4 separate regions of the Homo sapiens genome follow, and all the other regions are reported to be linked to region 2. The links are microRNA targets in miRTarBase. Many come from high-throughput screens and were not tested one by one. Region 2 holds a microRNA gene; each other region holds the end of a gene's coding sequence.
What was found. Region 2 holds the annotated microRNA hsa-miR-3613-3p (ACAAAAAAAAAAGCCCAACCCUUC, at 1,806-1,829, shown strand). A microRNA usually pairs through its seed, bases 2 to 8, with sites in the 3' UTR of a target mRNA and lowers its output. Matches are read on the target gene's strand: a 7mer-m8 pairs with bases 2 to 8, a 7mer-A1 pairs with bases 2 to 7 and ends in A, and an 8mer does both.

Region 1 (3,097 bases), not on the chromosome of region 2:
AGCCGGTGTTGCTAATAATCAAAATTTAGCTGAATTTGAGTTCTTTTCAGTAATGACTAAGAATACTTGATTGAAAATCTGAAACTATTATACCTTAAAAGCCAATTTTTCTACCCCAGTAAAGTGATGAATATTAAAGGAATGTATGTTTAAATATTTACTTCCTTTAAGCATAAAGAATTATATGCTTGTATTTTAAGAAATATATGTATATACATATATGTATGAATGTATGTATGTATATGCAATAGGTAAGTAGACTTTTTTCCAAGTCGTTTGAAGATCAGAACCTAGAAATGAAGTTAGGCTAGAAGCAAACTGGTTTTGCTTTCAGTTCTCATAAACATTGCAAAAGGTAAGTGTGGGCTTTTCTTTGACCATTAATGCACATAGGCATTAACAACTTAGTATTTCTGAGCAATTAAGCAAATAATTACTTAAATTTTATTTATTTGCCAAATGGTTTAAATAATTTTGAATTGACTTTGTTCTCCAGGGATAATCTCTCTCTTTGCTGGAATGAATCAGGTAGCTCCTATCTAAATGGAAAACTGTGGTAATTGAAACACACGCTTTATATTTTAAATTAGCAGTTTTGAATTTGTTAGGGAAAAAAAAAATCCCAGCAACTGCATATTGTTAGGTAGAAGTCAAATTTACAAAAACGGAATAGAGATGTGCCCTTGAGAAAAGTGTAGAATCTCAATGTGCAGATGATTTAAAATGTGCGTGCACATCAAATGTTCATGTGTACTTACATACTTTATTACAGAGAAGTCTTTGGTATACAAAATAGTTTACCACAACCTTTTAAACAGCAGGTTCTGGGCCTTAAATGCGTATCACATTTAGCCAAGAGAACTCAGGTAGGGGCATGGAAAATGAACTGCAGCTCCCTATCCCTAGCCTCTATACCAGCTGTCCAGTGAAAAGTACCAAGGCTCACTGAATGTTATAACCTAGCAGATTTTTAAATAAATGATCTAACATTTTTGAGCACTGCTACTAGATGCTAGAAGCTAAGCTAAAGTTTCACCTGCCCTACTTTGCTTATTCCATAAAATAACAACTGCGTGAAAGAACGGGTTATCCCCATTTTATAGATGAGAAAAGAAAGGTTTACACAGGTTAGCTTATTTGCCCAAAGTTGTAATTATGGCCTACAAAGTCAAATAAATCCTACTCTGAGACACATGTTCTTTCCACCATTGCACACTAGAAAGGAAAACACCAAGATTATTCATTACTCATCAAGTCAATATTGCTGTATTCAGCTAATTTAGTAATATGTGTCGAAATTAATTGCTAAAAGGGATTAAACTGACTTAGAATCAGTTTTTTGTTTGATTACATCTACATACAAAAGTAGCTTCAAATGTCTCATTCCACTGTCCATAATTTAAGATTTTTGAGTATAATAAAATTTTAAAGATACTTTGAGGCACTTTGGAAAATCAGACCAAAATCTCTTTTCCACTCATAGATTCGGCTTAATCAACCTGGAAAGCATTTGTTGAGAGCCTTATGACATCATTTAATAACCATGGTTGATTCATTAATTAAAGTACAGACAATTGTTGACTATCCATGTGGGACTTCTTTTCTATTAGGTTGATGCAAAAATAATTGCGGTTTTTCGCCATTAAAAGTTAACAGCAAAAACTGGAATTACTTTTGCACCAGCCTAATACGATGTGGATCATCTGAGATGAATGTTAAAATCCAGTATAGCTTCTTCATATTTCTGGCCCATTTTTCCCACCAGAAAGTGCACAAAGTGAAATGAGCTTATGAAAAGCTTAATTAACTAGAAAAATGTTACTGAAAGAAAAATTACATGGTACATGACAAGGCTAAATACTAGTAACTCTAAACTTAGTGAATTTTCTAGGCAGCAGCTTTCCTCTGCTGTCTAGACTGGTAAAGAACAAACTAAAGCCAAGCGCAGTGGCTCATGCCTGTATTCCCAGCACTTTGGGAGGCCAAGGCGGGCAAATCACCTGAGGTCAGGAGCTCAAGACCAGCCTGACCAACATGGTGAAACCCTGTCTACACTAAAAATACAAAAATTAGCTGGGCGTGGTGGTGCACACCTGTAATCCCAGCTACTTAGGAAGCTGAAGCAAGAGAATTGCTTGAACCCAGGAGGCAGAGGTCACAGTGAGCCAAGACTGTGCCACTGTGCTCCAGCCTGGGCGACGAGCAAAACTCCATCTCAAAAAGGAAAAAAAAAAAAAACTATAATAAATATGTTAGCTCCATGTTTTCTTAAGTTTTCTACCAGATTTTTGTCTTTGTATAGTGAACAAACTGTTAAGAACTTTTTTATGAGAAATATTTTAGTATGACTATATTGCATAGAGTTAGGCTGATGGTTCAGTGTTCAGTAGATTAGATACCCTCATTGTTTATTTCCATATTGACTGGTTCTAGCTAGAGCTGAAATTAGGCAAAGAATATCTTGAACTCATTTTGCTATACAGGAAAAAAAACAGTGCTTCCTTAGCTCATTTGGAAAGAGATTGGGATTAGAAAAGATGGTGAATTTGTATGTATTTATAGAAATAAATAGAATACAAAATGAGGCTTTTAAATTTTTTCCCACATGAAAATATGATACTTTAATTATTACCTTTTACATTATTAGTTTGCAGACAGGCATAATTAGGTCCTCAGTTGCAGAAATCACAGACATCTGAAGGCCAGCACTTTAATTTGGCCACCGTCTTAAGATTTCTCTGCTCTTCCTTTGCTCCTCCTCATAATGCACAGTTTGAACTGATGCTGTTCTATATAAGGTACTTTTCCACCTACCTCATCTCTGACTACAGTGCTATATTTTTCACACAGTAAGGACAGGTGTTGTGTTAATCTCACCATGCCAACAATCAGGGCACCACCTAGCAGAGTCAGTGAAGGCCAAAATAAACAGTGGAAGATAGCCATTTGGTCATACTTTTTTATAAGAATGACATCTTCAGATTGGCTGGCTGGACTGTAGAAGCATGAAAAGGGGGTTCCATTTTTGTGATCGAAGAATTCTTTTATGTCCAGAGCACTGTTGAGCAAATCATTTCTATCTTGGTGGCACTTAGGT
Region 2 (3,117 bases):
AAGGAAAAAAAACGTATTTTTAGGGAGGGATAGGGACGCTCCCATTGTGCAAGAAGGAAGTATAGCCGGTTAACAGCTCCATCAAGTTCTACTAGAAGGAGTGCCTATGTAAATGAAATTCTGCTTTTAAAGTGCCTATTATATAAAGGTCTCTAGAAAACTCAAGCCCTGTTCTACAAGCCCTAGCAGCCTGACAATTCACTAAGCATAGGAGAAGGGAAAAAAAAGTAGGAAAAAAGTGTGGAAGCCCCTTTCTTCCTTTGTAATATGAATGTTTGGCTATATTTAAGATAAATACCACATAAATAATTGCTAAACGTGAATTCTGTTTTTCTAAGTTTTAACAAAATATGCAAAGAACAAAGACCACCAATGAAAGTGGATGGGAACATACGTATTCTACACACAGTTCCATTTTGGAAGGTTCTAGGGCCTATTGAAATTGGGTGTTTAAAAAAAAAAGATAACACAGGAAAATTATTGTAGTTTACCTCTGTCTCCTACAAGCTGATGTATTTGGCAGGGTTACTATTTCCCAGGGCAAAGCAGGTCTTTTTTTTCACGTTTTGACTAACGAACTAGAGGCTACTGCAAAGAAAGAAGAAAAAGAACAGTATTAACGCATTTATTTGCACAGCACCCCAATCTTGACCCTCAATTTTTTCAATCGCCCCCACAAATAAAGCCCGGCTGTTTAGACCTGGTGAACCGCCAGGAGCCTGGAGCTCTTTGTATTAAGCAGCTTCTCGGTTAGGGCGCCCTCCCCCGGCGCCATGCAACCAAACGCTGGCGGCGCGCTGTAACCTAAGGCCCACACCCGTCTTTTCTTTTCTAGGGGATGTGGAGACGCTGGTAGCGGGGCCAGGAAGGCTCCGGACGGAGCAGGTTTTCTGGACCACAGACACACTGCCCCGGCGCCCTCCGCAGGCCGCTCCTCCCCAGGCCCATGACAGTGCCCCGCTGGTTTCTGCCGCGCTGCCGGACTGGAGCTCAGACGGCCTTCGCCAGCCCCCCCAACCCACGCAGATCCCTGCTGACCTGGGCAACTCCCCACCCTCGCTGAAGGTTCGAGGACCACCCCGCTTTCCCGAGAGGAGCCGGGCGGCGGGTACTTATCTCCGACCTCCGGCTAGTGGGAAAGGCCGCGCGACCGCCCGTCCTCCAACTACAGGGACCGCACGGTACGCGCCAAGCACAGCCCCAAAATGGACTCGCGGCTCCGGCTAGCTCCGCCCCCTTCCCTCTCCCGCTTCCCCTTCCCCTCCCGTCCCTTCCCCCTCCCCTCCCGTCCCTTCCCCCTCCCCTCCCGTCCCTTCCCCCCTCCCCCTCCCTTTCCCCTCCCCCTCCCCCTCCCTTTCCCCTCCCCCTCCCCCTCCCTTCCCCGTCGCCCGCCTCCGCCTGCACCTCCGGCCCCGCCTCCCCGTCCCGCTTCGCCTGTGTCCCGCCTCCCCGGCCGCGCCTCGCCTTGGCGGAGGGAGCCGGGTGGTGAGACCGCGTTCCTTCCGGCGTCTCCAACCGCCGCCTGCTCCCGCCGTCCACCCGCGCGGGCCGCCTGGGACGGGGAGGGCCGGGCTGCGGGCTTTTCTCCCTTCCAGAGTCCTGCGCCCGCCCAAAGCCCCCCCGCAGAGGCTGGGCAGCGGCTCCGGGAAGTGGACGCCGTTTGCCCAGACGGTGGGCTCGACTGAAGCGGCGCGGTCCCGGGTGGGGCCGCCCGGGAAGAAAGTCTCCCAGTTAAGCTGCCGTGCAATTAAGATGGTTGGGTTTGGATTGTTGTACTTTTTTTTTTGTTCGTTGCATTTTTAGGAACAAAAAAAAAAGCCCAACCCTTCACACCACTTCATCCGCATCTCAAGACCAGAAGCCGACCCCAGCGGCTTGGGGAAATGGAGCCCCGCACCCCACAAGGGGGAGGGTGGGACGGGCACCTCCGCACTGCGCGGCCTGCGGAGTCACCGATTCGCGTTGGGAGCGCGCCAGGAGCGCCAGGGCTCTAGCCGGGGGCTCCGGGCAAGGCGCAACCAGAAAAGGGTTCAGTATCCCCCATCACCCCCACCCCCAACCGTACCCTCTTTCTTTGCGGGCTTTAGGCAGGACACCAGAGACCCAATTCTATTTAAAATTCTCTTTTAAGAAAAGGAACGCCTGTTTTTGCCTTTGGGGGAAAGGATGAACTTTCAAATTGGCTTTAAATTATCCACCACTAACAGTTACTCAGTCGATAACCTGACTATTCTGACGTCCACCTCCCGTTTGAGGACCTTGCCCAATAGCAAACGTACTAAGCACTTAACCAGTGAACGGTGTGAAGGATGCAAACATGGATGATGAAGGAATGGCTCCTCCAGAATTTACGATCTTGGGAGAAGTGAGGCGAGTATAGAATCTCAGAACACGCTGTAGGATTGAGTTCGATCCCAGTTGAGGAAGTTTGGGTTTGGGGAGGAAATAGGTTATTTTGGAGAAACGGTATTCAAAACCTACCATAAATAGCAGTACAGCCCGTTGACTAATAATGCTTAGCCCAACCCCCGTAAAAAGCCCCTGGCCACATCCGTCTCCTGAGATTCCCACTTCTCTGTGTGCATCTCCCTTCCTGCTATAAGAAACCTAACTTTGCCTTCGTAGAACACTTCTTTTAATTTCTGTCATTCAGTCTCATAACACTGTGTAAAAGAAATTATGATCTTCATCCTATATAGATGAGAAAACAGGTGAAGTGACTTTTCCAAGGTACAAAAGCAAGAGGCAGAGCTGAGGCTAAAGGCAGCTTCCAGATATGGGCTCTTTCTACAGCACCATAACTGTCAGTGACAAAACTGCACCCCAGTACCTTACTAAATTTAGTGTTTTTAGGCCAGGCACGGTGGCTCACGCCTGTAATCCCAGCACTTTGGGAGGTCGAGGCGGGCAGATCACCTGAGGTCAGGAGTTCCAGACCGGACTGACCAACATGGTGAAACCTGGTCTCTACTAAAAATACAAAAATTAGCCGGTCATGGTGCCGTATGCCTGTAGTCCCAGCTACTTGAGAGGCTGAGGCAGGAGAATAGCTTGAACCCGGGAGATGGAGGTTGCAGTGAGCCGAGATCCTACCACTGCACTCCAGCCTGGGCAACA
Region 3 (3,105 bases), not on the chromosome of region 2:
CCACAGCAGCTGAGATTACAGGAACACACCCCCATGCCTGGCTAATTTTTGTATTTTTAGTAGAGAGGGGGTTTTGTTATGTTGGCCAGGCTGGTCTTGAAATCCAGAGATATGGGTATCAATTGAACTTCGGGTTTGAAGCAAGGAAATTGATGAGGTGGCCTTACTTCTGTAGCATCTGAGTTGTTACAAGAAGCCTATTACATAAACATCAGAGGGTAGAAATGATAGAAAAAGGGTTTTCTCTTCAGCTAAAGATCTAAGCTCCAGGAATTCAAGAATTTGAATGAATGGTTTGGCTCAATCCTTCCATAATACACCGTGGTAGACAGGAGAGATGGAAAGAGGAAGAGAGGAAGGGCGAGAAAGATGATGCAAGATGCTCCACTGCTTGCTGATTCTGAAGATGGAAAGGGCCAGGAACCAAAGAATATACGTGGCCTTTTGAAATGGAAGAGAGAAGGAAAGATTCTGCCATCAAAGCCTCCAGAAGGAATTCCCCTGATAACCTGACTTCAGCTTGCTTAATTTTGGACTTCTGACCTACAGAACTATTTTCAGCCATAAATGGGTTAAATTTGTGGTAATTTGTTAAAGCACCAATAAGAAACTAATACAAACACTAGAGAATATAAAAAAACAATATTTTTCAAATTTTTTGAGAAACAGTCTGTCATCCAGGCTGGAGCACAGTGGTATTGACATAGAGCTCACTGTAACCTTAAACTCCTAGGCTTAAGGGACCTTCCCAAGTAGCAAGGACTACAGGTGCAAGCCACCACACCCAGCTAATTTTAAAATTTCTTGTAGAGGTGGGGGTCTCACTGTTGCCCGGGCTGATCTCAAACTTCTGGGATTCAAGTAATCTTCCTGCGTTGGCCTCCCCAAATTTTGGGATTACAGGTGTGTGCCACCATGCATGGCCAAAGGACAATATATTGTTTTCAGAAATGCCCTTAGTAAAATTGAATGTAGGGCCACCAACTACTAATATGAATAGAAGGTTCTCTATCATCTGTGAACCCACCGCTGAGAGCAGTGGTGGGTATATATATATATATATAAGGAGGTACTTAATAAACATCAGTTATTTACCTTTTTCTGTATGGATTTTGGAAATCAATTAAAATGTGTCTATCATCACACTGAGCCCTATCAGAATACTTTACATTCTTTAGAAGACAGTTACAACAAACCAGAATTTAAAACCTCATTTTAATGAGACAATTGACCCTAGGCATCACATGAAACTTTTATTTCCCAACTGTGGAAACATTCCTGTGGAAATACATATTCAAGTTTAAAACTCGTAAGCTCAAAAGATCTAGGATATGTACTGTAATGCCTTACTGGTATCATCTAACTTATAAACAAAGATAATCCAATGAGTGTGGGCATTTCTATTTCTACTGTAAAGGCATATCAAATAAAGAAAAAAGTCTAATAATTGCATAAAGGAATATAAAACTATTTATTAACCACTGTTCACCAGTATTTACAATAAAGTAAACAATATACAGTTGGATAACATTTTGATTACTACAAAGTTGTTCTTCCTGGCTTTTGCTGAACCAGTAAAGCAAACTCAAGATTGAGCCTCCATGTAATGAATTGGGGTAAAGAAAAAACATGCAGGTCAATAGGTTAGGTTACAAAAGGTTGTTCACACATTTATGACAGCAGGTCCTAAACTGCCAACACCTCTAACCATCTGATTAGGTTTCTATGAGCCAAGTCTTACATATTCCATTCATCATGACCTTTTAGTCAATGTAGCAACAGGGATTCCAACATTTTGCTAAGGAATGGCCCGCTAGGGAAACTTTTAAATGTTCATTTAACTTAGTTTTGTTTAGCTAGTTAAAACACACTAGCATTTGTCTAGTTTCCTCATCTGGATGAGGAAACCTGCTGTGATGGCAGTGATAAAATTTTTCCTTTTAGGAATTTTGCAAATAAACCACTGCAATTATAGACACTTTAAAATTATCCAATTTAAATTGTCCTATCTAGAATTACTTATTTCACTTGAAATGTATGGTTTCAGGAAAATTTTCAATTTAACTTGAAGGGATTATCTCTTATTTTGCTTGGAATAATGGCATCTCAGAAACATGGGTTTACCTGTGATTTTTTTGTTTGGGTGAATGCTTAAAAACAAAAAAAAATTTACATATGCATTTTATGGATACACACACACACACACACACACACACACACAAAAAACACGTAATAAATCTAGAATGGTCCTTAGGCTCATGAGAACACAAGTTTTGACTGAGTAATGACTATGGACATTTCCCCCAACATTTAGAAAAGCTGTTCTTTAATGAAGAGGAAATGATATACCATGGTATCAAATGTTCTTTTCTGATAAAGGAAGCAACTACAGAAAGCTTTTATTTATTTGTTCAAAGTAACCAGTGCTATGGATGCAAAAAACCCCCAACAACTCTTCCAACGCTACTTTCAAAACAAACATATCAAACTTGATTTTCATTAGGATGTAGTTATTTTGTCACACTAGTAAATCAAAATCTAAGACCCAATTTTTATATATATATATAAATATATATAAAAGAACAATGTGAACAATTATTGAGCTTCATCTTCTGGACAAGAATGCCAAGTTAGTCTCTCTTCATAAAAAGCAATTACAATTTGAGGACACTTCATATTTGCCTCTTTCGCCAGCACCAAGTCTGCCTCATCTGAATCTTTCCTGTTTTAAGAAAAAGAAAAATTCAGTTACAAGTCGAAGTTGTTCATGTCAACCGACAGCCATTCATTTAAGAAATAATAGTCCAAACAAAAGGTATTGAAGTGCTCCAGGAGAGTTATGTTACTTGTTGCTATGTTCTAATAAACTTCATTTTCAAAACAGGCCACAGTTTGCTGACCCTTGCTTTAAAACACTACTAGTAAAAGTAACCAGAATCATCCTCTCAGCAGATAGTTTTTCCCTACCTAATGATGAAAAACCATTTCACAAATTAAAAAAAAAAAGCTACTCTTACTTTCAAATGTAACAATCTCTGCATACTCACCATTTCATGAGAAACATCAATTCTCCACTGCTGTCTGTGGCACCAATTATTCTTTCAG
Region 4 (3,117 bases), not on the chromosome of region 2:
TGAGCTTTCTTGCATACCATTCCTAGTTCTAGGTGGCATGAGAGTTGGAGCCCAGCTCTTCAGGAGCGAGTGACTAGGAGGAAACTCCATGGGTCTCTTGCCAGCCACGAATACCTAAGAAAATGCTCTTCTCTCAGGCCCATCTCCCAGGCAATGTATCAGTGAATACATATGTAAAGTGTATGTCAGAAAATCGTACCAGATACTGAGTATCCAAAATATAAGCCTTAGGGTGGCAGGCAGACACAATAATTACAATATAGAGTGACAAGCGCCATAGAAACAGGTAAGGTTGGAAGTATTAGATTTAGTGTCTTGGCCTTAGAGAAGGGTTTAATGAAGTTATTTGACCCAGGTTAAGATCAACTGCCAGTATGATAGTCAAATTTATTACCTCTATTCCTTCTTCATACTTTCCCATCCCAAGGATTATTAATTGGGTTCCCCTAACATTTTCTCTCCCTTTCAAAAGCCCCAAGTAGTACTACTACTACTACTGGGGAACAGGAGATACAAACGCTTAACTAAGCGGCGGGCGGGGGTGGGGAGGAGGTGAAAGCAACTCCTTAAACCAACGTTCAGCATTCCAAATTTTAGCAGCTGCCAGGGAAATATATTTGCTCTCTTGTATTACTGACAGTTGTAATTACATAGGAAATCTTCAAAAGGGGAAGTAATTTGGATAATACCAAAACGTTATTTCCCTTTAATACAGATAACCCATATTTTCGCAGTTGAAATGATGCTTTTAACTTCCTGCCTCCTCCATTCCTTGAAAGTCGATTCAAAACATTTATGGTCACCTAGCAATGGTTCAATTCAGTCCAAGTGCTTGGAAAACCTGATTACAGGCATGGGCCCATTCCCCAGGAAAGTAAATGAAATAGTCACAATTTTGAATTTAACTTCCTGGGGAAAGGATGAAGGTAGGCAAGTACCTCTGAAAACCTGTACAGACTCCAGAATAAAAAAGTCCCAAATCTTTTTCAAAAAGGTATGAGTAAAAGGATCTGATATCATTGTACATATCCTTGCTCCATGCTGCTGTTGCCAAAGGATAAAAAAATAATTTGAGGTGGGACATACTCAGCAATTTCCAGTTGGATTCCCAGTTGAGTATTTTGCAAAAAAAGCATTAATGAATGAAATTTTTAAAAATATCTAAGTATATCCGATCCCACATACTGTACAAACTAGCTTAGAACAGTGGGATATGTAACTGATGATATAAAGGAAACAAGCTTAACAATTTTTCTTTTAGTTCCTACATGAACTTTCTAATACTGCCATTACTGAAGTTTACATGTTTTCATCAAGGGTTTTAGAGATGCATAAGAGAAGTATCAAAGTTAAGTTTAATAAAGTAAGTTCCTTCCATTTTGTAATGTATAAAATAATACCATTTAAACAGGCAGAAACTAGCTAATCTGCATTTATAGAGCATAGTTTTTTGGGTGGGAAAAAAGCATTCTTTCATCATTTCACCTTTACTAGAAGAAACAGACTTATGATGGTTCTTACTATTATTTTTCAACTTTAGAATTATTCATTCAGTAGAAGCTGTATTTCAAGTACCCAACCATTCTGTTTTTCACTTTCAATGTAATCTTCAAAAATTACATGAGATATTCAACATACTTTATTATAAAATAGGCTTTGTATTAGACGATTTTGCCCAACTGTAGGCTAATGTAGTGTTCGGAGCCCTTTTAAGGTAGGCTAAGCTATGATGTTTGACTTTTGGTATTTTCAACTCACAGTGGGCTTATCTGGACCTAAACCCATCATAAGTTGAGAAGCATCTGTATACCCAACATTGGTTATGTATACTTTCATTAAATACTCATTTGAAAAATAAAGCTTTCTTCACATTAACCCTGTGATGTAGGTCTTTAATTTTTGAAACTGCAAGAAACTGCAAAACAGGTTCCAAGATGAGCTCTTACTGATGTATATGGTATAATACGGTATGGCCAAAACCACTGCTTATGACCTCTCAAATATTCACACATCAAGGCCAGGCGCAGTGGCTTATGCCTGTAATCCCAGCACTTTGGGAGGCTGAGGCGGACGGATCCCTTGAGGCCAGGAGTTCAAGACCAGCCTGGTCAACATGGCGAAACCCCATCTCTACAAAAAATACAAAAAATTAGCCAGGCATGGTGGTGCATACCTGTAGTCCCAGCTACTAGGGAGGCTGAAGCAGGAGGATCACTTGAACTCAGGAGGCAGAGGCTGCAGTGAGCTGAGATTGCACCACTGCACTCTAGCCTGGGTGACAAAGTGAGACCCTGTCTGCCAACAAACAAATATTCACACATCACCCAGTATTAAGGAAGGGTCATCATTCAGAGAGGTTTTTCTGAGATAATCTATTAAATTACAATTTATAAAGAAATGTTTATAAATTTGTATGAAGTTATAAATTTATAAATATAAAAGTATAAATCCATATAGAGCTGTTTAAACAAGAAGTTTCCCTCTGAGAGGATTACAGACTATGCAATCTGCTACATGTGATTTCAGATAAATGATAAATTATACCTAATGTGTTAAGTATAACAATCAATTTTTGATATTTAAATTATCCTAAAACCTGTTGAGTGTGAATCCTCTTAAATCTTTCTTTTCTGTTTATGCTTCTGGCTGAGAATGGAAGAAGGGACGGAGGCTTCAAATGACTGAAATTGTTCAGCTGGTTTCTTGTGACCGACCACTGTAAAGTATTTTTCACCAGAGTCCAAAGGCAAGATAAAAAGTCTCTGACTTGAAATCAGAATCGATCTGCTGATCTGCTAGCCACAGCTCGAATATTGCCATAAACCTTGGAAGGAGGATTTCCTGCAAAGGGGAAAAAAAAGTATATACACAAATAAACTCACATTTATAGCGCCTACAGTTGTCCCTCAGTGTCTAAGGAAGACTGGTTTCAGGACTCCCACAGACACCACAATCCTTGGATGCTCAAGTCTCTTACATAAAAAATATGCACATTAACTACCCACATCCTCCCATATACTTTAAATCATCTCTAGATTACTTATAATACCTAATACAATGCAAATGCTATGTAAATAGTACTGTATTGTGTTTTAAAATTTGTATTATTTTTAATTT

Region 1: miRTarBase lists KCNMB3 as a target of hsa-miR-3613-3p. The part of its 3' UTR that is shown has no 7-base or 8-base seed match.
Region 3: miRTarBase lists CBX3 as a target of hsa-miR-3613-3p. Seed matches in the 3' UTR shown: 7mer-m8 at 2,436-2,442, 7mer-m8 at 2,220-2,226 and 7mer-m8 at 2,159-2,165.
Region 4: miRTarBase lists PNO1 as a target of hsa-miR-3613-3p. Seed matches in the 3' UTR shown: 7mer-m8 at 2,143-2,149, 7mer-m8 at 2,134-2,140 and 7mer-A1 at 1,610-1,616.

Annotation. Positions count from the first base shown.
Region 1 is chr3:179,240,177-179,243,273 of GRCh38, forward strand. KCNMB3 (potassium calcium-activated channel subfamily M regulatory beta subunit 3) reads right to left here. Exons shown (of 3, transcript NM_171830.2): 3 at 2,595-3,097. The coding sequence ends at 2,728. Among named protein-coding and RNA genes, the nearest start is that of KCNMB3, 9.4 kb to the right of the region's middle.
Region 2 is chr13:49,995,138-49,998,254 of GRCh38, reverse strand. It overlaps MIR3613 (microRNA 3613), which reads left to right and starts at 1,754; the gene lies at 1,754-1,840. It overlaps TRIM13 (tripartite motif containing 13), which reads right to left and starts at 1,213. Exons shown (of 2, transcript NM_213590.3): 1 at 492-1,213. It overlaps DLEU2 (deleted in lymphocytic leukemia 2), which reads left to right. Exons shown (of 14, transcript NR_152566.1): 11 at 836-1,181. RefSeq lists silencers at 1,477-1,606, 2,197-2,246 and an enhancer at 1,787-1,916.
Region 3 is chr7:26,211,699-26,214,803 of GRCh38, reverse strand. CBX3 (chromobox 3) reads right to left here. Exons shown (of 6, transcript NM_016587.4): 5 at 3,048-3,105; 6 at 1,197-2,722. The coding sequence ends at 2,596. Among named protein-coding and RNA genes, the nearest start is that of CBX3, 12 kb to the right of the region's middle.
Region 4 is chr2:68,174,459-68,177,575 of GRCh38, reverse strand. It overlaps PNO1 (partner of NOB1 homolog), which reads right to left. Exons shown (of 7, transcript NM_020143.4): 7 at 1,338-2,841. The coding sequence ends at 2,774. Among named protein-coding and RNA genes, the nearest start is that of PNO1, 18 kb to the right of the region's middle. RefSeq lists an enhancer at 1,789-1,958.